Linked DNA regions of Homo sapiens. The protein of the gene in region 4 purifies or fractionates together with the protein of the main gene of each other region. This does not show direct contact. Each region holds a gene or a part of one and is shown on either strand. Other genes may lie near its edges.

Region 1 (3,500 bases), on a different chromosome or scaffold from region 4:
GCCGGGGTTCCTGACCTACAGAATAATGGAAACTAATACATCTTTGTTGTTTTAAGCCAGCAAGATTTGGAATGGGTTGTTATAAAGCAATAAATAGCTAATCCACAATGTCCTCCCCTCCTGCTTTCTGAATCCCACCCATCCCTCAATCAGATCCAGTAACACCTCCTCCTGGAAGCTTCTCTCATCTCACCTTATTCCTCACCCCATCAGCCTCTGTACTCTGCTCGGTAAATACCTACACTGAGGGCTCAGCTCAGGGCTCTCTCCTGAGAATCCCTCCCTGACTTCCACTGTGGGTGCTTCTCTGAACACTCAAGGTGGCTCATGCACACCACACCCCATTCCTGTGACCATCTGTCTGCTTGTTTCCCCATCAGACTTTTATCCACATACTCCCCCACACAGCCATTACCTACCACATAATAGGGGCTCAGTAAGAGCTTATGAACTAAAGGGATAAACTGCTATGCCACAAACAATCTCATTCATCTCTCTGCAGACCTGTGAGTCTCTTTCCCACTGTGATTGCAAATGCTTTAGAATAAGGATTATGCCTACTTATCTCCAGGTCCCCCAAGAGCCTTGCACATCGTAGGCACTCAATAAACATTCTGTTGACTTTTAACTGATTGACATGTCACTTTCATTGTGACCTTAGCTCCAGATTCTCCCATGCACCTCTGATACTCAGGTTCCAGGTCTCCTAGACCTGGATGCTAGACAAGGGCAGAGGAGGCTCTGCTTGTTTATTTCTGGCTCTTTTCCAATCAATGAAATTCTCAAAACTCCATGCAGTCTACACTCACCACAATGAGTTCAGTCCAAAGGGATAATGTTTTGTATGGCACATTCTCTTTTAAAAGAATTCACCCCCCAACTCCTACTGCAACAGACAAATGCGAAAATGTTAACACAGCTTCCCACGCCACCAGGGAGTTCCAAATCAACTGGAAATATCTGATTCAACCTGTTATCGTAAGACACAGACCAGACAGCGTTGTCACCACAAGGGACAATCATTCTATGAACACATACATGGTCTTGTGACCTCTACTCAACATTCCAGAGATAGAGGAGCTGAGTGGCCCTGGAGTGGGGGAAGGGCTGGGTTATAAATAGTGAGGTGCAGTGGGCTGGACACTCGGGTGGCGGCCAGATTCCTGGTCCTCCTGGGCCTAGGTGACTCGTCATCTGCAAGATAAGCACAGTGCTCTGGGGACATCCAGGGCATTTTCCCACCTACCTCGGACCCTCTCCACCCTCCTGAGCTGCCAGGACCTGGCCCTGGCTCTCCCTGACCAAGCCAGAGCTCGCCTGCTTCCCACGTTCTAGCCTACGCTGCCTTGGGTTTTATGTCTCATCTGGGACTTGATCATAAAATCCCAAGGTTCACAGAGGCCATGAAATCTCAGTTCCTTGTGCAAGGGCCTGTGTCACCCAGAGCGGAACCAGGTCAGGGAGGTAAAAGTCCCAAAGGCAAGGATGGGAGAAAAGAAAACAGGGAGGGGGAGGTCAGGAATAGGTTCCTTCTAGCACAAAGCAGGCCCCTCAACAAGTCCCCATGGACCAAGTAAGTCTGCACTCAGTTCTGGGAGACACACAGTCATCATGGCTGGACTGCAAGAAAACAATTCTTGGACGCAGCCTGGCCTGGTTTCCATCCTGGCTCCCCCACTGAACAGCCACATGACTTTGGGCACATTTTCCCTGTTGGAAAACAGCCTTTCTGTGAGGCCATGATAGGATTCAGTCCCCCTGAAGTGACCAAGCCAGTGCTGTACATAGAAAGTGTTCAAAAACGCGAGCTCCCTCTTCCTTCCTTTCACGCCCAGACTCCGACTAGAGAGGGCTAGCTTATGTCGGAGGCTGTCTCAGAGTACAAACCCAGGTACAAGAGAAGCTCTGTCCTTTGAGAAGGCTGCGTTTAGCACCCACAAGTAACAAAAAAATCTTATTACATATATTATTCATTCATTCACATTCATTCATTCAACAAACATTTGTTGAGTGCCTAAGGTGTAGCCAGCATTGCTCTCAGCACTACTGCTGAGCTTCCTGGATGCAGGCACTATGGAGCTTTAGATACTTCCTGTCCCTAAACTGCTCTCATCCACGGTCCTGTGTCTGGAAACAAATATGACAGCATCCTATCTGCCATCAGCTAAGCCCTGAAGATGATAACGACACAGATAAAAAGTGATGCTTGAAGAGAGGTACGTAGGAGACTCCCTAGGTAGAAGAGAGGACAACACCCACTGCCCCAAGCTGTTATGCCAAAAATCTGACCCCAACTCTGAGCTCACCAGCCTGATTCTACAGATAATATTTGGCTATCCATCTGTGGGAAGAACCAGTTTTCCTTTTTTATTTTCAATGTGTTGTGAACTGATATTTTTGTAAATTACGTAGATCATGTGCTTAAATACTGCAATGTTGTTTGTTTATTTATTTGAGATGGAGCCTCACTCTGTTGCCCAGGCTGGAGTGCAGTGATGCAATCTCGGCTCACCTTAACCTCTGCCTCCCAGGTTCAAGCAATTCTCCCACCTCAGCCTCCCGACTAGCTGGGACTACAGGCGCGTGCCACCACACCCAGCTAATTTTTGTATTTTTAGTAGGGACGGATTTTCGCCATGTTGGCCAGGTTGATCTCGAATGCCTGACCTCAGGTGATCCACCCTCCTTTGACTCCCAGAGTGCTGGGATTACAGGCATGAGCCACTGCAACCAGTCTGTCAAATTATTTTAGAAGTTCCTAAATATTAACACTGAGAATATATATTTATCTTATTGCTACTCAGCACCAGATAATTCAGGCACCAATCTATGAACCACATTTGGGTAGGACTGATGGCATTTAGTTCATTCCGTGAACTGTCCAAAATCTAGCATAATACTGTCACATTTTTACCTCATGAAGTTTCAACAATATCAAAAATGAACAAAAAATTATTTTTAAAATGTTGTTGCGTGCTGCAAAGAAATACAAGAAATAGAATTGTAATATTCAACTTACTTGCTGATGGCTGAAATTTGACCAGATCTTGCAAATCAGTAGAAATCTGGAAGACGTGGCTGTAGAACTGCTGGACTGAATTCTTCAGGCCAGAAATGTCTCTGGAATGCGACCTGAGCGTTCCGTTCATCTGCCTGACACAGTTCCACAGGCTGCTGACATGCTTGTTGAGCCCCTCCTTGATCCTCTGAAGATTTCCTGAGATAGAGTCCAGCTTGCTGCAAGTTTTCTCCATATGAGACACCCTGCCCTCCACCATGGAGACCTCCCTCTGGACCCCCTGCGTGCATTCCTTACAAGCATCCAGCTCCGAGATGACCTGGCTCTGCAACCTCTGCCACCTCTCCTCCAGCTGACTGCAGCAATGAGCCACGGGGTGCTGGGGGGACGGCAGGGTGTCCACTGTCCTTTCTTGCTCACCCACCTTAGTGAACCTACCCATGCCAGCGTTTTCACCTGCTCTACAATTGCTCATTTCCTT
Region 2 (3,362 bases), on a different chromosome or scaffold from region 4:
GGGGCGGGTACAGGCTGCTCGTTCAGGAACATTCTCTAAATTTGGGGCCCCAGAAGGGCCTGGACACGAACCTTTAGCAGGCCGCTGGGCTTGCCCAAAGAGGTGCTGTGGGAAGCCAAGGCCAGCCTGGCAGCCGGCCCTCTGCTCTGGCCCAGCGGGGCTGTTCTGGGGGCCTGCACCTGGCTCAGCTGTGTCCCGCTGGGGCCCTGTGCCTTTAGCTAAGGAGGTACATGCCCTGCTCCGGGGCGGCTTGAGTTTTTTCTTTTCCACCCAACCATTCTAGCTGCCCCCTCGTTCCTGGCCCACACATGGCATGGGGCAAACACAGCTCCACATGCCAAGGCCTCCAGCTGTGCAGGCCTAGGCAGCTCCTTGGCCGCCCAGGCGTCTCGACAGTGCAGCCGTGAGGGCGGCTGGATGCAGCAAGGGCTCGTGTTGGGGACACGAGGGCCAGTGTTACGTGTGGGGTGGAGGCGGGGCTGGAAATGTGTGTCCCCCACTGTTTCACCCCACTCATCTACTGCAGACCGACATCTCACGAGGGCCTGCGGGAAGTGGCTTTAGGTTTCTGTATGTCTGTGAATCTAGGAAATGATGAGAAAGCGGATAAAGCGGGGCCACCAGGAGCCAGGAGGCCCCTTCACCCCTGCCTCTGAGCTCTGCACAGGTCCCTCTGCGTGGACGGTCACTTCCTCCTCGCCCAGCTCCCTCCTCCTGTCCTTCACAGCACCACTGATGTCTGAAGTGAAGACCACCTCTTGTGTCCCGTGAGTCCCCAGGCCGGTGCTTGTGGCACCTAAAGAAGCTCCATGTCTATCTTAAGGGGAATGTTCTTTTTGATTAATCAGAGGTATTAACATGCCCCTAATGAGTCCATTTGCTAATTGTATTGTTTAGGGGTTGAGAAAACAAAATAAAGAGTTGATATGTCTGGGGTTGGGTGGCCGTGAAATGAGGGTAATGATGATGCCCCTTCCTTGGGAGATTAAATCAAACAATGCATTCCCCAGGCTTAGGCAATTGATAGTAGTTATTAAGTGGATGGCACTGGCCAGAATACAGGGAGATACACACTCACCCAGCAAAATGATAGCAAACCTCAAACAGAAACCACCAGGCACTGTATACGTGCACATGGCCACGGCTATTCATCTTTTAAAATAAATAACTCTCTGGTTAGGCCTCTCCAAGTCTGTGGTTCTGGGCTTGTGGGTGGAAAAGTGCTTGGCTGTCTGCTTTCCAGCCTCTGAAACTGCCCAGGAATTCTCTGAAAGCCCCTCTGTGGTGACTTCTCTGAAGGTGTTGTTTCTTCAGAGGACTGTCTGTAGGTGGGGACCGTGGGCCAGGCCCTGGGCTGGCTGAATGCCCCCTCAGGAAAGCTTTCAAGGTGGAATGACACATTTCTGGTCATCCACTTTGCTAGCCAACAGGGCAAGCTGGAAAACGAGATGGGTGAGGACGTAGGAGAGAGTGAGAGGGTGAGATAAAGCTTCTGCAGGCTACGTGTACCCGTGCACTGGGAGAGACACTAGGGACACAATGCCCCTTTTCTCCCCCAGTTAGAGCCCTGGCCAGAACATGCCGCTGTTTTCAGGAAGGAGGGAAGCCAAGGCCCCCTTGTTCCTCCTCAGGGCTGGCCTTCCACCCAGAGTATGTGGAAACAAATCTCGGCAACCCCTCTGACAAAGAAGTCACCTGGCCAGGCTGTGTCTCGTGTTCAGTATTTTATTCTTATAGATTCACTTTGCATTGAGAATGGCCCCTTCTGCAGATCCTCCTCTATGAGGCAGATATTTCCGGAAGAGCTAAGTCACAGATATTTGCAAGTGACTGGCTCTTTATGAGTTTGCTTTCAGTCTTGAAAGCACAGACCAAGGCAGCCTAGGGCACTAGGAGAAATGGGGATGGTGGAGACAAGAGCTCCATAGGAGACAAGAGGTGTGGGTTGCCTGAGCATGTATGGAATAAACTGGCCGGAGGAGCAAATCTAGCCTGCTGATGAGTTTTGATTTGCATGCACCAGGTGTTAACTCAATCAAATGTGAATGCCTGTGGTGTCTCTGGTCCTGTGCACGCCCTATTTCTCAGGCCCCCATGCCTGATATCTTTGGGTTAACTGATGGACCGTGATGGCCTCTGGGGGTAGCACCTTGCCCTTTAGACAGCCTGACTTCCATGCCCCTGTGTGGACACCAATGGGAAGGAGCCTGTGGAGGTGGCCTCCCCTCCTCCCCCTGCAGGGCTGGAACCCCTTCCCACCCACCTCACCTGGAACAGGTAGTCTCCAGGGGGCACGTCAGTGATGTCAACCCACTGGCAGTCGATGTCATGGCGGTACATGTCCCAGCAGCCCATGGTGATGCCCTGATCGCCGAAGTTGGCACACTCGTAATTCTTCTGGATGTCTGCGGGCAGGGTAGAGGAGAGCTCATCACCAGGGAACCATGGCCCCACTGCCGCACCCTCTTCCTGCTTCCAAGGCCCCTACCGCTGCTTCATCTGGGCTCGGCATCCCACCCCACTGTGTGGGCTGCTCATCTGTTCTCATTTCAGTAGAACCCCCCACTCAATTCCCTACCCACATCCTGCCTCTTCTCTCAGGCCAGGCTCAAGTTCCCCTTCCTCCATGAAGCCCTCCCTGACCACTCTGATCCACCCTGGCCTTTCTGTGACATCCTCAGCCTGGGGATAACTGCGTGTGTGTGGACCGAGGAAATCTCTGGTGCCTGTGGTTTAGCAAAACGTGGGGGGTCATACTGTCTGTCTCCTCTGGAGGATCGGCAATTAGAGTGTAGGCCCATGTCTCTCTGACACTTACATGTTATCTGCACATGGTAAGAGGTCAACACCTGTCTGCTGTGTGATTTCACGGCAAGTCAGTGGCGGGCCGCTTCAATGAATAACAAATTAAACACGCATTTACTGAGAAGCTGCCATGCCTGGACACTGCTGTAAACAGTGGGTCTAGCAAGAAGAACTGACATGTCTCCCCATGAAGAGCCCCCAGGGCTGCAGGTGCACTAACAGGTGATCACAGGGCAGGTGTGGTGACCTACCAGAAGTGTGAGCAGAGTGCCACACCTGCCGGGACGGGGGGGCGCTTCAGAGGAGGGCATTTGAGATATAATTGAAGGGTGACACCTGGTGTGGTAGGGACACTTGGCATTGGGACACCAGAAAAAAGGTTGGTGGCAGCCAGAGTGGGAGGGGCATACGCATCAGGGTCTAGGCTGCTAAGCCCAGATGGAGCAGGGTCCCCAGAGTCTGGATCTTGTCCAGGAGGCCCTGTGGACCGACCAGTGCCTGTCAGCACAGCTCTGGGGAATCCGGGTGCCCTTGGAACCAGGTCATGCCCATGCCCC
Region 3 (2,178 bases), on a different chromosome or scaffold from region 4:
ACAGTGACAGACCTCGCCTGGCGTTGCTGTCCCGGCTTCACTGGGAAACGCTGCCCTGAGCACCTCACGGACCATGGGGCTGCCTCACCCCAGCTGGAGCCTGAGCCTCAGATTCCTTCAGGGCAGCTGGACCCAGGCCCCAGGCCCCCTTCCTACAGCAGAGCAGCCCCCAGCCCTCATGGTGAGTCTGCCCAAGGAGACCCTCCAAGGTGATTGGGTTTCTTGGGCTCAGTGGCAGGGGCAGGGAGGGGACTGATCCCAGGCTGGCTGAGCTCCGGCATGGATGGGGAGGGGCAAGCCCCAAGCCCCACTTTCACCCCACCATAAAGCTGAGGGAGTTATGCCCAGTGAGAAGGTAGGCTTAGAACAGAAAGTCTGGGCTGGGCGCGGTGGCTCATGCCTGTAATCCCAGCACTTTGGGAGGCCGAGGCGGGTGGATCACGAGGTTAGGAGATCGAGACCATCCTGGCTAACATCGTGAAACCCCATCTCTACTAAAGATAGAAAAAAAATAGCCGGGCGTGGTGGTGGGTGCCTGTAGTCCCAGCTGCTTGGGAGGCTGAGGCAGGAGAATGGCATGAACCCGGAAGGCGGAGCTTGCAGTGAGCCAAGAGCACACCACTGCACTCCAGCCTGGGCGACTGAGCAAGACTCTGTCTCAAAAAAAAAAAAAAAGAACAGAAAGTCTCTTGGGTGGCCTGGCATTGTGACAAGCTGAGAGGGTGAGGCCAGTGATGCCCCTGGGGCTCTCTTCTCTTTCCCAGGAAGGAAAGGCCCAGGGCTGTTTGGTGAGCGGCTGGAACGCCTGGAGGGTGATGTCCAGCGCCTGGCTCAAACATATGGTACCCTCAGTGGCCTGGTGGCTAGCCACGAGGATCCCAACAGGATGACTGGTGGCCCCAGGGCTCCTGCTGTCCCTGTGGGCTTTGGGGTCATCCCTGAGGGGCTTGTGGGCCCAGGAGACAGAGCCAGAGGGCCACTAACACCTCCCTTAGACGAGATCCTAAGCAAGGTGACAGAGGTGAGCAACACTCTTCAGACCAAGGTGCAGCTTCTAGACAAGGTGCATGGGCTGGCACTTGGCCATGAGGCCCACCTGCAGCGGCTGCGGGAAGCCCCACCATCCCCGCTCACCTCCCTGGCCCTGCTGGAGGAGTACGTGGACCGACGGCTGCACCGACTCTGGGGGAGCCTGCTGGATGGCTTTGAGCAGAAGCTGCAAGGCGTCCAGAGTGAGTGTGACCTGCGGGTGCAGGAGGTACGGCGGCAATGTGAGGAGGGTCAGGCCGCCAGCCGGAGGCTGCACCAGAGCCTTGATGGCCGGGAGCTGGCCCTGCGCCAGGAGCTGTCACAGCTGGGCAGCCAGCTGCAGGGCCTGAGCGTGTCTGGCAGGGGCAGCTGCTGTGGGCAACTAGCCTTGATCAATGCCCGTATGGATGGCCTTGAGAGGGCCCTGCAGGCAGTCACCGAGACCCAAAGGGGCCCCGGTGCCCCGGCCGGGGATGAGCTTACGAGGCTCTCTGCTGCCATGCTCGAGGGAGGTGTGGACGGGCTGCTTGAGGGTCTGGAGACGCTCAATGGGACAGAGGGTGGAGCAAGGGGATGCTGTCTGAGGTTGGACATGGGGGGGTGGGGAGTGGGCGGCTTTGGGACCATGCTGGAAGAGCGCGTGCAGAGCCTCGAGGAGCGCCTAGCAACATTGGCTGGGGAGCTAAGCCATGACAGCGCCTCTCCGGGCAGGTCAGCTCGGCCCCTTGTACAGACAGAGCTGGCTGTGCTAGAGCAACGGTTGGTCTCACTGGAGACTTCGTGCACCCCGAGCACCACCTCAGCCATCCTGGACAGCCTCGTGGCAGAGGTGAAGGCCTGGCAGAGCCGGAGCGAGGCCCTCCTACGCCAGGTGGCCAGCCACGCAGCACTGCTCCAGCAGCTCAATGGCACTGTGGCCGAGGTCCAGGGACAGCTGGCAGAAGGGACGGGCAGCTCACTTCAAGGCGAGATCACTCTGCTCAAGGTCAATCTGAACTCAGTGAGCAAGTCGCTCACAGGCCTCAGTGACTCTGTCAGCCAGTACTCTGATGCCTTCTTGGCTGCCAACACGTCCCTGGATGAGCGGGAACGCAAGGTGGAAGCCGAAGTCCAGGCCATCCAGGAGCAGGTCAGCAGCCAAGGCTCCAG
Region 4 (3,500 bases):
GGGATGCATTGCATGTGTTTTGCAAGAGTAAAGTATTATTTCATACAACTTTAATAAAACTTCTCTTAGTTTTCCATATGTATATACCAGGGTACAGTATATTTTTCTTGCAGTGGGTCCTGGTACAGAAGATAAAAATACAAAAATTTTTTTTCTGTTGTTGGTAAAAATACCCGAATCCCCGAGTTTCTGAATCTAAATCTGAATCTAGGAAAAAAGGGCAGGAATGTGACTAGACTTCAGACTAGGGGAAAGGCCTCCCGAGATTTTAGTACCAGCAAAACTGAAAATCGGAATTCATTTTTCTGGGCTGATTAGGAACCAGTCCTGTGTTAAGACTTTAGATGCTTTTCTCGCAGACATATCATAAGGTATGATGAACTGTCTTGCCTGGTGTGGTGGCTCATGCCTGTAATACCAAGCACTTTGGGAGGTTGAGGTGGGATGATCACTTGAGGCCATGAGTTTGAGATCAGCCTGGGCAATATAGTGAGACCCTTTTATTTTTTTTTTTTTTCGAGACAGAGTTTCGCTCTTGTTACCCAGGCTGTAGTACAATTGCGCGATCTCGGCTCACTGCAACCTCCATCTCCCAAGTACAAGTGATTCTCCTGTCTCAGCCTCCTAAGTAGCTTGGATTATAGGCATGCGCCACCACAACTGGCTAATTTTTTGTATTTAGTAGAGACAGGGTTTCACCGTGTTAGTCAGGCTGGTCGCAAACTCCTGACCTCAGATGATCTGCAGGCCTCGGCCTCCCAAAGTGCTGGGATTACAGGTGTGAGCCACTGCTGCCAGCCTGAGACCCTATCTCTTAAAAAAAAAAAAAAAAAAGCCAGGTGTGGTGGTTTGCTGGTTGTCCTAGCTACTCAGAAGGCTGAGGTGAAAGGATCGCTTGAGCCCAGGAGTTCGAAGCTGCAAAGGAGCTATGATGGCACCACTGTACTGCAGCCTGGGCAACAGAGTGAGACTCTCTCAAAAAAAGAAAAGGAAAAGAAAATACGTTAATTTTTTTTTTCAGAGAGAACTTCATGAATACTAGATAAAGCATTTATATGGTGATAGCTCTTGGAACAGTTGGTTAAACTGAGGTATATGCAGAAAAGCAGTACTCTGCCCTGAAATCCCAGAGACAGCTAGGATACATTCTCAAGCCCTCTGTTCCCCCATTGCTTTGCTCCTGTTTCTGTGAGTGGCTGGACTGGAATGTAGCTAGGCCTCTAGAGAAAGGGAACCAGGAAGGATTGGGCTACACCCGGGAGAGGCTCCACTCCTCTCCTGCAGTCTCTGGAATGATTCAGGTTAGTGGTTTTTCAAATATCCTGTGGGATTGGAACAGACTTGGATTCCTTTTGTTAAAAGATTGTTCTTCCAATCAATGACATCCTACTTAAAAAAAAAAGTGTTCTGAAAGAAGAAAGCCCATAATGAGTGTGAAAGGTTAAGAGGCTTTTTTGTCAAGCCTGATGAATTTTTTTTTTGGCAGAGTCTCACTCTGTCCCAGGCTGGAGTGCAGTGGCAAGATCTCAGCTCACTGCAACCTCCGCCTCCTGAGTTCAATTCATTCTCCTGCCTCAGCCTCCTGAGTAATTGGGACTACAGGCATGCACCACCCATGCCCAGCTAATTTTTGTATTTTTAGTAGAGATGGGATTTTACCATGTTGGCCAGACTGGTCTCAAACTCCTGACCTCAAGTGATACGCATGCCTTGGCCTCCCAAAATGCTGGGATTACAGGCATGAACCATGAAGCCCAGCCAAACCTGATGAATTTCTATCTGGAATTTAGAAAACAGGATGAGGTAAGCAAGGGAAATTCCTATGAAATGCTTTATTTGTATTTCACCTTTTTTATAATTATCCATAACTCTGATATGCTTTATAAAAATATTTGTTCCCATCAGATTTACATTTGACATTTATTAATAGAATCTGAAGTTAAAAAAAGAAGTCAGGCCGGGCATGGTGGCTTATGCCTGTAATCCCAGCACTTCGGGAGGCCAAGGTGGTTGGATCACCTGAGGTCAGGAGCTCAAGACCAGCCTGGCCAACATGGTGAAACCCTGTCTCTACTAAAAATACAAAAACTAGTCGGGCATGGTGGCACATGCCTGTGTCCCAGCCACTCAGGAGGCTGAGACAGGAGAATCACTTGAACCTGGGAGGCGGAGGTTGCAGTGAGCCGAGATCATGCCGCCACTGCACTCCAGCCTGGGCGATAGGGCGAGACTCCGTCTCAAAAAAAAAAAAAAAAAAAAAGTCAAAGCAAACTATGTGAATTTGCTGACCCCTAGTGGGTAGAATGGATTATGAATATAAGCTATTTACATTGAAGGGTAATTGCTGATGGAATGTTTGCTTAATATTTATTTTATTGTTATTACTATTATTTTATTCTTATTTTTTGAGATAGGGTTTCTCTCTTATCACCCAGGCTGGAGTGCAATGGCGCGATCTCAGCTCACTGCCACCTCTGCCTCCTGGGTTCAAGCGATTCTCCTGCCTCAGCCTCCAGAGTAGCTGGGATTACAGGCGTGCACCACCACGCCAGGCTAATTTTGTATTTACAGGAAACTGTAAATAATAGCACTTCCTAAAACCAGTGGTCTCTACTTTAAAAAGCAAAATAACAAAACAGCATTAACATTTACTTTTATTTTTTAATTTACATATAAATTATATTGTATGTGTTTACAGTATCCACCATGACATTTTGATAGATGTGTATAAAGTGAAATGGTTACTACAGTCAAGCAAATTCACATATCCATATCCTCATTAGTTTCCTTTTTTGTATGTGTATAATAAGAGCACCTGAAATTTACTCTCTTAGCAAACATTTAAATATTTAGCAAACAGGCCAGGTGCAGTGGCTCACACCTGTAATCCTAGCACACTGGGAGGCCTAGGCGGGCAGATCACCTGAGGTCAGGAGTTCAAGACCAGCCTGGCCAATATGGTGAAACCCCATCTCTACTAAAAATACAGAAATTAGCTGGGTGTGGTGGCGGGCGCCTGTAATCCCAGCTACTCTGGAGGCTGAGGCAGAGAATTGCTTGAACCCGGGAGGCGGAGGTTGCAGTGAGCCGAGATCGTGCGCTGCTGTATTCCAGCCTGGGCGACAGACAGAGCCAGACTCTGTCTCAAAAAAAAAAAATATATATATATATATATATGTGTGTGTGTGTGTGTGTGTGTGTATGTGTGTATATATATGTGTGTGTGTGTGTGTGTATATATATATATATATATTAGCCAGGCATGGTGGTATGCGCCTGTAATCCCAGCTACTTGGGAAGCTGAGGTACGAAAATTGCTTGAACCCAAGAGGCGGAGGTTGCAGTGAGCCGAGACTGGCCACTCACTTCAGCCTGGGTGACAGAGCGAGACTCTTAAAAAAAAAAAAAAATCAATACTACCTTTTATGAACACTCCTAAGCATATCAGCAAATTCATACCCAATTATATCAGAATTATGGGCTGGGCGCGGTGGCTCACG
Region 5 (3,500 bases), on a different chromosome or scaffold from region 4:
ATTGACCTAGAAATTCTTACTAGTTGGAAAAATGCTTTATTGTAAGGCATGTGAAACACTAAGCATATTACACAAAACTGTGAATGACACTCAGGGTATATTCTAGTCCCTTCCCTCTCAGATATAAAAGACTTCTTAGACTCTGGCTCAAGAACCATAAAACTTGGAGAATTTGCCTATTTTTTTTCTTCAAATAAGACCTCTTGGAATGCAAGAAAGCATTTACAATTTCCTGTAAGAAGAATTCTATTTTCTAATAAGATGGTGGTATTGATGACTTACTAAAAAATTAGGTTATCTGAAAAAACCTTTTCATTGCTCTCCATTTATTCCACTGGATTTTAAATCTCACTGATTACTTCTTTGAAAAGATTGGAAGAACATACTAGTCATTTTTCATCATACAGCTGTGTTTGGATCACCAGCTGCATATCAATTTTTACTGAACAAAAACACATTAAAAAACAGGTGCCAAGGCATACTGTTGAAATTTTGATAATTTATATTAAGGGTAAAGGACACCCTTAGGCAGGAATTATCTTGCAACTAAGATAACCTTTTTATAAAGGAATTAATAAAAGTGAAGAGCATGATTCTACAACCATGCAAAAAAGAGCCTTTAAAAATTTGTGCCTTAGCAAAGGATATTTACATTTGCAAACTCACCAATACACTTGATGCCGTTTCCAATCCAGCCTTCTCTGCAGCTACACTTGAAGCTTCCTGGGATATTCAGACATGAGGCATGCATGTCGCAGTTATGAGCACCAATTTCACACTCATCCACATCTGATAAACCATAATTCATAAGAAGAAAATCAAAATACAAACTAATTAATTCTACTTCCAAGTATATTTTTGTATAGGTAACATTTTAAAGTAAAGATGCAACCGTATGGAGAAAAGAGTAGCCTAACTAACTTTTATTTTTAATTTTTGTAGGCTCCAAGAGGACTTGGAAAATTCATGATCCTAATAAAACAAGTTCTTCCCTAGAAACAACTGTCAGCCACTTTCCAGTAGAAGAGAGAGAGACACAGCAGTGTTGCTCCCCGGCAGGTATGTGTATTATCCTGGGGCCTTCTTCCCTGCCCAGATTCAGACACAACACCATAAAGAGGACATTCGATTACAGATCAAGAGAAATCTTATTTCCAATAATAGATGGTGCTATTCCTTCCTATTGATATTTATTACATATTTTTCATGAAGATAAGAATCTAACTTTTTAAAAAAAGTAATAGTTTATTCTCTTTAAAATTACATGATCATTTGTCATTTAAAAAATCAATATAAATATTTTACAGAATTTAAAAAAAACTATTCATTTAGGTGTATATTTTTATTTCTTCTACTTATTTGAGATTATAGAAAAATATTCACTGGGAATGTTATCTGGAAAGTAGCCAGATGCTTTCGCCAGTGTGTGTGTGTGCGTGTGTGTGTGTGTGTATTTGTGTGTCTGTATACACACACACATATCCCTATATATGTATGTATAACCTATGTAGATTTGGTTCTCCAAAGCTTTCTTGACTATAAATAGTAATGTGTTCTATCTAGTTCAACGATTACATATTATAGATGCTGAAATCACACACACACACACACACACACACACACACACACACTACTGGCTTCACATCAACCCTGTCAGTGGTGAACATGCAAAGAACACCTTCTTTTATAATCTGCCCCTTACTGGAGGGGTCAGCTTAAGGGCTGGGTTGGACTCTTAAGTCTTCCACCACCTGCCTTGAAAAAATATCACACATAAGTCTTAAATTGTGCACTGAGGAATACGTGATCCAAAACCTTGACCCCGGCACATCCTAGCCCCACCTGCATGCAAAAGGCTAAAACTAGTTAGTAGTAGTAGTAGAGAAAGGGAACAAAAGACAAAGTGAGCAAAGTGAGCAAAGAAGGAAAGTGAAGAGAGGAAAAAGAGAAAGGCAATTTGGGCACAGAGAAGAGAAGACAAAAGCAAACAGAAGAGCAAACAAGAAAGGAAAAGATGGGAGAAAGGAAGAAAGGGAAAGAGTCTCAATGAAACTTGATTAATTTTTACTAGTTTAAAAGAAGTGCAGAGGTAAATGGCAACCGGGATCCTCGGGTCTTTTGGTGCTCTTTGTACATGAATGTCTTCCAAGCGGGCAGCAGTCATACTCAGAAAGTGACTGATGCTGCATGAACGACCATAAGTGGTCAGGGCCATGGGAACCAGACTGTACTCCTACTCACTCACTCTGTCACAGCCCACAGCCAGCCCCACGGTGGGTGGCTCAGACAGCGTGCTACCACAGAGACCAGCCAAATCCATCACACATCCTATAGGTCACACACTCATCACACACACAGTCACAGTCTGGTGGCAGGTAACCGCTCTAAGAGATGCCAGAGAACAAATGATGTTGAAAGTTGGCCTTTGACATCTGAGAAGTTGAAATACAGAGAACACAAGCTTGAAACCTACCTGTACATCCTGTGGTCCCCTTCTTCACTGAGTAACCCAGCTGACAGTGGCAAATGAAGGATCCCTTTGTGTTCTCACATTCCCCAAACATGCAGATATTTGAATTTAGGTCACATTCATTGACATCTAGAAAATTTATTTTCAATATCTTAGTATGTGCTCATCACAGTAATTTAAAAGCTATCTTCTACACTGAATAGCATAATACTGAAATACACAGGCAAGATCTAAAATATAATCCATCCGCAAATCATCGTGTTATAGATAAATATACAACCTGCCTTTAGACATTTTTAAAAGTAATTCTTCCTGAGATTTTACAGTTCTAGTAAAATGATTTGAATTTTTAAAATAACAACAGAAAAAGCCTTCCTTTTATCACGCTTGTGTGTGCATGTGGGTGTGTGTGCATGTGTGTGTATAAATGTTTATCCTTTCTTATGATACCCACCAATGCATGTTTTCATGTCCATGGAAGCCATGAAGCCATCATAGCAGAGGCAGCGATACTCTCCAGGAATGTTGGTACACTGGCCGCCATCACAGATATCAGGATTGTTTTCACATTCATCAATGTCTGATGATACAAAATTAGCATCAAATGAAAATAAAAATGTCGTTCATCAATCTCAAATGTTTTTGTTTTCTATCTGGTTCCACTTGGTAATATCTGGAGCCATATTTTCAAGAAAAAATTAGTTAGATGTACAAAACCTGTGTGTTTTCCTTTCTATACCTGCACACGATCTCCCATCTGGCATCAGGGCATAACCCTCACTGCAGCTGCATTCGTAGCTTCCCTCTGAATTTGTGCACTGGGTGTCACAGCCTCCGTTCATTATCATACATTCATCAATATCTGTGAAAACAGCATTGCAACCACATTGTCAGGTCTGCTTCCTTAAAAGGAGTTTTCTTCTTTTTAAACAGATAATGCTAATGTGGCTTTGAATTTTTCTCCCCACTATGTGTGTTGATTGAACATTATCTTTCTTAGTTCTTTCACCTTCATTTTAGGCAGCATTCC
Region 6 (3,500 bases), on a different chromosome or scaffold from region 4:
TCAGTATTAAAAAGATGTTAATTCTCCCCAAATGATCTACAGTTTCAAGGTAATTGCACTCAAAATCTCAACAGATTTTCAGACAACTGCTTTCTAAAATGTATATGGAATTATAGAGGGCAAAGAAGAACCAAGGCAATCTTGAAGGAGAACAAAAAAGGCAAAACAAACAAAATGACACACTCTGACATAGAAATATATAATAAAGATAGAATAACTAAGACAGTGTAATGCTAGACAAAATAGACAACTGCACTAATGGAGCTATTAATAGAACAACACAATCCAGACAGAGAACCACAGACAAAATCCCCTGATCAAAATACAGCGCAGCCGGGAAACAATGACCTTCTCGGTAAATCATCTTTTCAATGTTACTGGTCAATTGGGTATACGTATAATGGCTGGGGGGAATCAATCCTTACCTCAAGCTACAGACAAAAATCAATTCTCCAGAGTGGGAGGAAACATTTGCAATACAAATATTTGATAAAGGACTCATCTGCAGCATGTGTAAGAAACTCTTAAAATCACTGCTGGGTTTAGAGAATATATTCTAAATAAAGCATTGTTATATTTTTCTTCTTTTTTACCAATGACACTAGCTTTTCATGTGTCTTTCATATGCCCAAGATAAAACCCTAGAGTTTTATTATTCTTTCTATAGCTCTGCACATGTAGCTCTCAATCAAGTTCGTCAATTCTATCTTCTCAATGTCTCTCACCTGTGCTCTTCTTTCTAGATGAATTAAACTTTTCAATTTTTATTTACAGACTAAAGTCTGCTTGAATTATTTTTATGCTTTCACATAAGAGGACTTATGAAAACAAAACTGTTAAAACAGGAAACATTATTTGTGCTTACGTTAGTGGTCTCTGAGTTACAATGATATAATCTGGTCTTCCATTTTTATAAAGCAGGCGTGCATTAGACTGGACCCAAGTCCATCGGTTGTTTTTTGTAAGAAGCCGGAAAACTATCATGCCACTTTCTCCAGTCTTAATCACTAAAATAAAATTAAAAAATTAAATTATCAAACCCCCAAATCAATATAGTAAAGATTATTCCTAAAACAAAGCTCTTGTGACATAGTTCTGGATGTATTTCCTTTATCCCCAAAGACAATAAATTTTAAACAAAAAATAATAAAAGGCATGGAAATAGTTTTTCAGAGTTGTTTTAAATTTATTATTTTAAATGTTAAAGGGAAGATTATGTACCAAACAATTCTAGTAACACAGGAAAGTATAGAGAGAACATAAGTTGGGGAAAAAATTATTTTCATTTTAAATAGGGAATATTTTCCTACAGCCTAATACTTTATAATTTTAAACTAGAATTATTAACACTATTATTGTTACAATATTAACATAGATTTATGAATTGATAACGATGTAATTAAAAAATTCCCAAGCAAAACTTCATGGGCCAAAATGGTCATTTTTTAATAACTAAACAACAATATTTCTACATGGCAGGTGTAGACAAGTTAATGAACAAAGAGTGTAACCCTGGTTAATCATAATGATATGTTACTAAGTAGAAGTTTATCCATATACTTTACTTAAACACTTTACATTACGTAAGAATTTGAAACATGTACAACAGTATATGCCGTTTTCTTCTGACATGTTCATAAGGAACTACAACTTACTTCGGATATGGGACTCGGCACAATAAAGCATATCAGCTGCATGAATAAACTGATAACCTGAGCCTCTCGTGCACAGCTCTGCTTCAGTATATCCTAAAACAATTCTTCCTCTGTTTAAAATAAAAAAAGGTAAAATAAGAATGGATTAAGATTTAACATAAATGAAATAACCAAGATAAATTCATTGGTTTTACGCTAGTTTCTGCAATATGTTTTAGTTCACATTTAGAATTTCACATAAGTAGATGTGAAATTAAACACATCCATGTAAACTGATCTTCTTTGCTTATGATTGCAAATTTCAGTTTCAGCCTATTTTCTTTTCCTGAATAAATCCATGGAAATTAGTATGCTAAAAATGAATCTAATAGAGCAGATGTATGGGTAACAGAACATCTTTAATAAAAATCTGGAATGTTTTTATAATCTATTTTTAGGGAAGAAGGTTTTTCTAATTACCTCTCTGCATTCCCACATTAGAAAGGAGAAAAGCACTGATATGTTTGATATGATATAAATGTTTAATATCAGACTCCTGCTCACAATTTTCTGAAAGTTACTAAAACTTCTGGGGCTAGAAATCAAATAACATTTGTGCCATTTAAAAATGTAAAACAAACCAACATAAATGTCATCAGAAGAATAAACCTTACTAATATATAAGAACATCATCATTTGAGACAAGTATTGCAAAAATTAAAAAGATGATTTGTGAGCCTGATTAAATTATTTTACTGTAAAAGGCTACACTGGAAGAATGTACGATAATAGCCAATCTAATAATAAACAATATTACATACACTGTATGTTTTACATGCTAAGAGAGACTTACTGAAACATAATGTACATCCAATAAAATAAAAGTGAAAAAGTCTCACTTACTTGGCATCACAACCAATAGGTGTGAAGTCTAGTTTGTGTTTGGTTCTAAAGATAAAATTTTTGGTCCGGATTTCAAGTATGGATGGTGGCTGAAGTGGAGTAGCTATCGCAAACAAAGCCAACTGAGGTGGAAGTATTGATCCATCTTTCCCTTTCTTTTTCTGTCCATGAAGATACTTTAACTTCCCTTGGAAATTCATTGCCTTAAAAAAGCAACAACAACAAAAAAGTTCATTAAAATTAACAATATAAAATAGTGCCTTTTTAAAAGGCTCCATTATGGCTGCCTCTAGGGTTCTTGATAATTCCATAAATATTCCTGAAGCTGAGAACTGTTAGTTTCCTTCACTCCTCTCTCCATGGGACGCCCATTAAATCTATCTCAAAGAGTAATATGAAAAATATTCTAAAGGGATAAGTGAACCACTCCTTGTTCCTAATGGTCATAACATGAAAACCTATATCATTTTCCAAGCTTGCCATTACCCTATCATTTTCACCTCACACAGCTCCTTGCACACCAGGCAATCAATATATCCTGAATGGTGATAAAGTCCTAAAGTAAACATTCATTTTCAAGCATACATGAACTATATCACAGCTCATAGCATACTGCATAGTTCATAATCTTTTCTATAGAGGCAAAATATAATTTTATTAAGACACTAAAATGAATCATCATGAAAACATATAAAGAATGCAGAGCCCTACTGAGTAAAGATATGGAAGAAATTTAGAAGACAGGGAAAACAAAGGCACTTAAACATGAACATGATATATTTAATTGCTTAAAACAATATCAACCAGTCCAAGGGATGGTTCTGACATCAAAATAATAGCAGCACAAGGAGGAAAAGGCCCTCCTGCACACAGATATTCCACCTCAGACATACACTCACATGTCATTTAACAAAAGGGGCATGTTCTGTGAAATGTGTCCTTAGGCAATTTCATTATCCTGTG
Region 7 (3,500 bases), on a different chromosome or scaffold from region 4:
TGAGTCACCTCAGGGCCTGCTGGCTTCCCACCCCGGGGGGATGCTGCGTTGGGCAGTGTCCAGGCAGGCCAGGCTCACTCCATCCCTCAGCACACCCCATCCAACCAGCCCCAAGGCCTGGCTAAGCTGGGGAAAACCACACTTCCCCAGCAAGGCCCAACCCCACGCCTGCCAGCCCTTCCCTGGTCCTCACCCGCCGCCCACCCCACGCACGTCCCAGTGCCTCGGCCTCATCCAGCTAAGGACAGGCCTGGCCTCCCAAGATGTCTCAGAAGACTGCACTCCCACGTCCAGCCCCTCCCCTAACCAACGTGCTACCAGCCACACCCAGCCCAGCCTCCAGGACCCCCACCCAGTCCCCCGCCCCACACCTCCGACTGTCCCTCAAATACAGACAACTAGGGCCCAACATGACTGCTGACCCTGGGCCTCACTCACAGCTGGGCAACCCCGGCCCCGCCCCCGAGCCCCTGCCTGCAGAACACCCGGGGACGGCCCGAGGAGGCTCACCCAGGTAGGAGCACAGGATGGAAGTGGGGGGCCATCCCCAACCCGCTCCTAGAACCCTCCCTAGCCACGTCGAGCTGACAACAGACCCTCAATCCCACCTCTTAAGCTCCCCTTAAACCCGTTTTCCCACATCCGCCATGGCCCCGCCAGGCCACGGGGCCCAGTCCCCGCCCATCTCCAGGGCTCCCTGAGGTCACCAGGGCCCGCAAACCTCTGCCTACAGGCGCCAGACAATCCCCAGAGTTCCATCCACATGCCTCCCAAGGCTCCGTCCACACCCCCCGCCGAGCTCTGTTTACACCCCCCAGAGCTCCATCCACACCCCCAAAGAACTCAATCCACATCCCCCAACGGGGTTCCATCCACACCCCCCAACAGGCTCCATCACCTCCCCAGGGCTCCATCCACACCCCGCAACATGCTCCATCCACACCCCCCCAGAGCTCCATCCACACCCCCCCAGGGCTCCATCCACACCCCCCCAGAGTTCCATCCACACACCCCAACATGCTCCGTCCACACCCCCCCCCAGAGCTCTGTCCACACCCCCCAACATGCTCCATCCACACCCCCCAGGGCTCCATCCATACCCCCCAGAGCTCCATCCACACCCCCCGAGTTCCATCCACACCCCCCAACATGCTCCATCCACACACCCCAACATGCTCCATCCACACCCCCCAACAGGGCTCCGTCCACACCCCCCCCAGAGCTCTGTCCACCCCCCCCAACATGCTCCATCCACACCCCCCCAGGGCTCCATCCATACCCCCCCAGAGCTCCATCCACACCCCCCAACATGCTCCATCCATACCCCCCCAGGGCTCCATCCACACCCCCCAGGACTCTGTCCACACCACCCCCAGGACTGTGTCCACACCCCCCAAGGGCTCTGTCCACAAACCACCCCCGTCAGCTCCATCCACACCCCCCAGGGCTCCATCCACACCCCCACCAGGACTCTGTCCACGCCCTCTCAGCTCAGAGCACCCTTGGGGTTCCCAAGGCTCCTGCCCACCCCCACCCACCCACCCCAGCCTATCAACCCATCTGCCTGGAGCACCACCCTCGCAGCTGCACCTGGCCAAGCCCTTCCCCACCCCCGGTAACACCTGGAGCACCCAGCCGCTTCCCAGGCGTCTGGCATTTGGCTCCTTCCTTCGTTCCTTCCTTCCTTCGTTCACATCAAGTGTACAGCAGGCATGCCTCTGCCACCAAGGACGGCAACCTATAGCCAGCGGGGCTCGGGGAAAGCAACAGGGGGCAGGGGCTGTTGTTCCAATAAGGCCAGGCCAACGGGTCACAGTGGCTCACGCCTGTAATCCCAACACTTTAAGAGGCTGAGGCAGGCAGATCACCTGAGGTCAGGAGTTCGAGACTAGTCTGGTCAACACGGTTAATCCTCATCTCTACTAAAAATATAAAAATTAGCCAGCCATGGTGGCAGGTGTCTGTAGTCCCAGCTACTCTGGAGGCTGAGGCAGGAGAATCACCTGAACCCAGGAGGCCGAGGTTGCAGCGAGCCGAGATCGCACCATTGCACTCCAGCCTGGGCAACGAGGGCAAAACTCCATCTCAAAAAAAAAAAAAAAAGGCCAGGCCAGGCTTTGAACAGGTGGCATTGAGATTGAGGCTGCAGGGCATGAGGAAGTGAAGGAGCTGCATGGCAGAGCCCACAAGAAGGCCCAGGGGCTGAGAACGCATAGCCCACGGGGACAGTGGGGTCATACCACAGATCCAGACCCCACCACGGACTTCCTTCCTGAGGCTAAGCGAAGTGGGTGACTGTTGCGGGTCTGAGTGAGGTCTGTTCGGGTGTTGGGGGTCCGAGTGAGGTCTGTTGGGGGTCTGAGTGAGGTCTGTTGGGGGTCTGAGTGAGGTCTGTTGTTGGGGGTCTGAGTGAGGTCTGTTGTTGGGGGTCTGAGTGAGGTCTGTTGTTGGGGGTCTGAGTGAGGACTGGGACCCACCAGGCTTTAACAGTCACTGTAGCCGCTGGACAGGAACCAGCAGGACCAGGAAGCAGCAATAGTGAGGTCAGAGGATGGGGCCAGCATGGGTCTGAGAGCAGCTCTGGCCACGGGGCAGGCAGAGAAAAGCCAGGCCACCCGGTCTCCCGGCACAGCCACACCTGGGCTTCAGGGCCAGCAGGGAGTTCCTCTCGACTCCCAGGAAACCTCATGCCAGCCACTCAGGTAAGATTACTGCCACCTTCGCCTGAGCCCAGGGCTCCGGTTACCTGCTCCCGCAGGGACGTGTGCCTGCCCGCCCGCCGAGAGGGCCTCACCGCCCGCCAGCTGGGGTCCCTACACCTGGATGGCAGGAAGTCATCCAGAGTGAACCTGAGCTGGCTGACGGGGCGGTACCTGCCTCACCCCACCTGCCAGCTCTCCCAGCTCCCCTTCTTCCCTAGGGGCCAGCCTCCAGGACTTATTTGCCTCTTCTGTGAATAACAACCTCTCACCCCCGTCCTTCCAGGACTCAGTTGCCTCCTCTGCGAATAGCAACCTCTCATCCCTGTCCTTCCAGGACTCAGTTGCCTCCTCTGCGAATAGCAACCTCTCACCCCTGTCCTTCCAGGACTCAGTTGCCTCCTCTGCGAATAGCAACCTCTCACCCCTGTCCTTCCTGCCTGGCGGGCCACGATCTGGGACAGGGTTTTGTCAACACCAAACCCCTAGAACACAGGAGGGACTATAGGGCCTGGATTGGGCGGGGGTTGGCGGGCATGTTGCCCTTCTAGGAACGGGGCTGGGACATGTGGGGATGTGGGCCTGGCGCTGGCAGGGGCAATAGGCGATGTGTGGGCTGGGGGTCTGGGGACAGGTGAGAGACCCATCACCTGCCCAGGTTCCCCGGCAAGCAGGGAGAGGAACCCAGGCCCTCCCTCAAGGCCAGCCTAGCAGGGCTATGCCCCTGCCCAGTCTCTGGAGGCCAAGGGGGAAGGGCTTCACCCCTGCAGGCCCAGCTAAGCCTCTCCCTACAAGCCCGGC

Evidence for each region.
Region 1: the proteins of MFAP5 (region 4) and EMILIN2 purify together in Homo sapiens (affinity purification with mass spectrometry; one large-scale study listed by BioGRID and IntAct). This does not show direct contact.
Region 2: the proteins of MFAP5 (region 4) and LOXL2 purify together in Homo sapiens (affinity purification with mass spectrometry; one large-scale study listed by BioGRID and IntAct). This does not show direct contact.
Region 3: the proteins of MFAP5 (region 4) and EMILIN3 purify together in Homo sapiens (affinity purification with mass spectrometry; one large-scale study listed by BioGRID and IntAct). This does not show direct contact.
Region 5: the proteins of MFAP5 (region 4) and FBN2 purify together in Homo sapiens (affinity purification with mass spectrometry; one large-scale study listed by BioGRID and IntAct). This does not show direct contact.
Region 6: the proteins of MFAP5 (region 4) and AHR purify together in Homo sapiens (affinity purification with mass spectrometry; one large-scale study listed by BioGRID and IntAct). This does not show direct contact.
Region 7: the proteins of MFAP5 (region 4) and JAG2 purify together in Homo sapiens (affinity purification with mass spectrometry; one large-scale study listed by BioGRID and IntAct). This does not show direct contact.

The regions. Positions count from the first base shown.
Region 1 is NC_000018.10:2,892,006-2,895,505, reverse strand, and holds part of EMILIN2 (EMILIN-2 precursor), read right to left. Parts: coding exon 3,020-3,500; intron 1-3,019. UniProt on the Homo sapiens protein: May be responsible for anchoring smooth muscle cells to elastic fibers, and may be involved not only in the formation of the elastic fiber, but also in the processes that regulate vessel assembly. Has cell adhesive capacity.
Region 2 is NC_000008.11:23,299,759-23,303,120, forward strand, and holds part of LOXL2 (lysyl oxidase homolog 2 precursor), read right to left. Parts: intron 2,406-3,362; coding exon 2,269-2,405; intron 1-2,268. UniProt on the Homo sapiens protein: Mediates the post-translational oxidative deamination of lysine residues on target proteins leading to the formation of deaminated lysine (allysine).
Region 3 is NC_000020.11:41,361,641-41,363,818, reverse strand, and holds part of EMILIN3 (EMILIN-3 precursor), read left to right. Parts: coding exon 1-181; intron 182-764; coding exon 765-2,178.
Region 4 is NC_000012.12:8,656,327-8,659,826, reverse strand, and holds part of MFAP5 (microfibrillar-associated protein 5 isoform a precursor), read left to right. Parts: intron 1-3,500. UniProt on the Homo sapiens protein: May play a role in hematopoiesis. In the cardiovascular system, could regulate growth factors or participate in cell signaling in maintaining large vessel integrity. Component of the elastin-associated microfibrils.
Region 5 is NC_000005.10:128,332,246-128,335,745, forward strand, and holds part of FBN2 (fibrillin-2 precursor), read right to left. Parts: intron 3,333-3,500; coding exon 3,210-3,332; intron 3,051-3,209; coding exon 2,925-3,050; intron 2,600-2,924; coding exon 2,474-2,599; intron 790-2,473; coding exon 667-789; intron 1-666.
Region 6 is NC_000007.14:17,333,152-17,336,651, reverse strand, and holds part of AHR (aryl hydrocarbon receptor), read right to left. Parts: intron 2,741-3,500; coding exon 2,538-2,740; intron 1,766-2,537; coding exon 1,656-1,765; intron 1,008-1,655; coding exon 866-1,007; intron 1-865. UniProt on the Homo sapiens protein: Ligand-activated transcription factor that enables cells to adapt to changing conditions by sensing compounds from the environment, diet, microbiome and cellular metabolism, and which plays important roles in development, immunity and cancer.
Region 7 is NC_000014.9:105,158,777-105,162,276, forward strand, and holds part of JAG2 (protein jagged-2 isoform a precursor), read right to left. Parts: intron 1-3,500. UniProt on the Homo sapiens protein: Putative Notch ligand involved in the mediation of Notch signaling. Involved in limb development.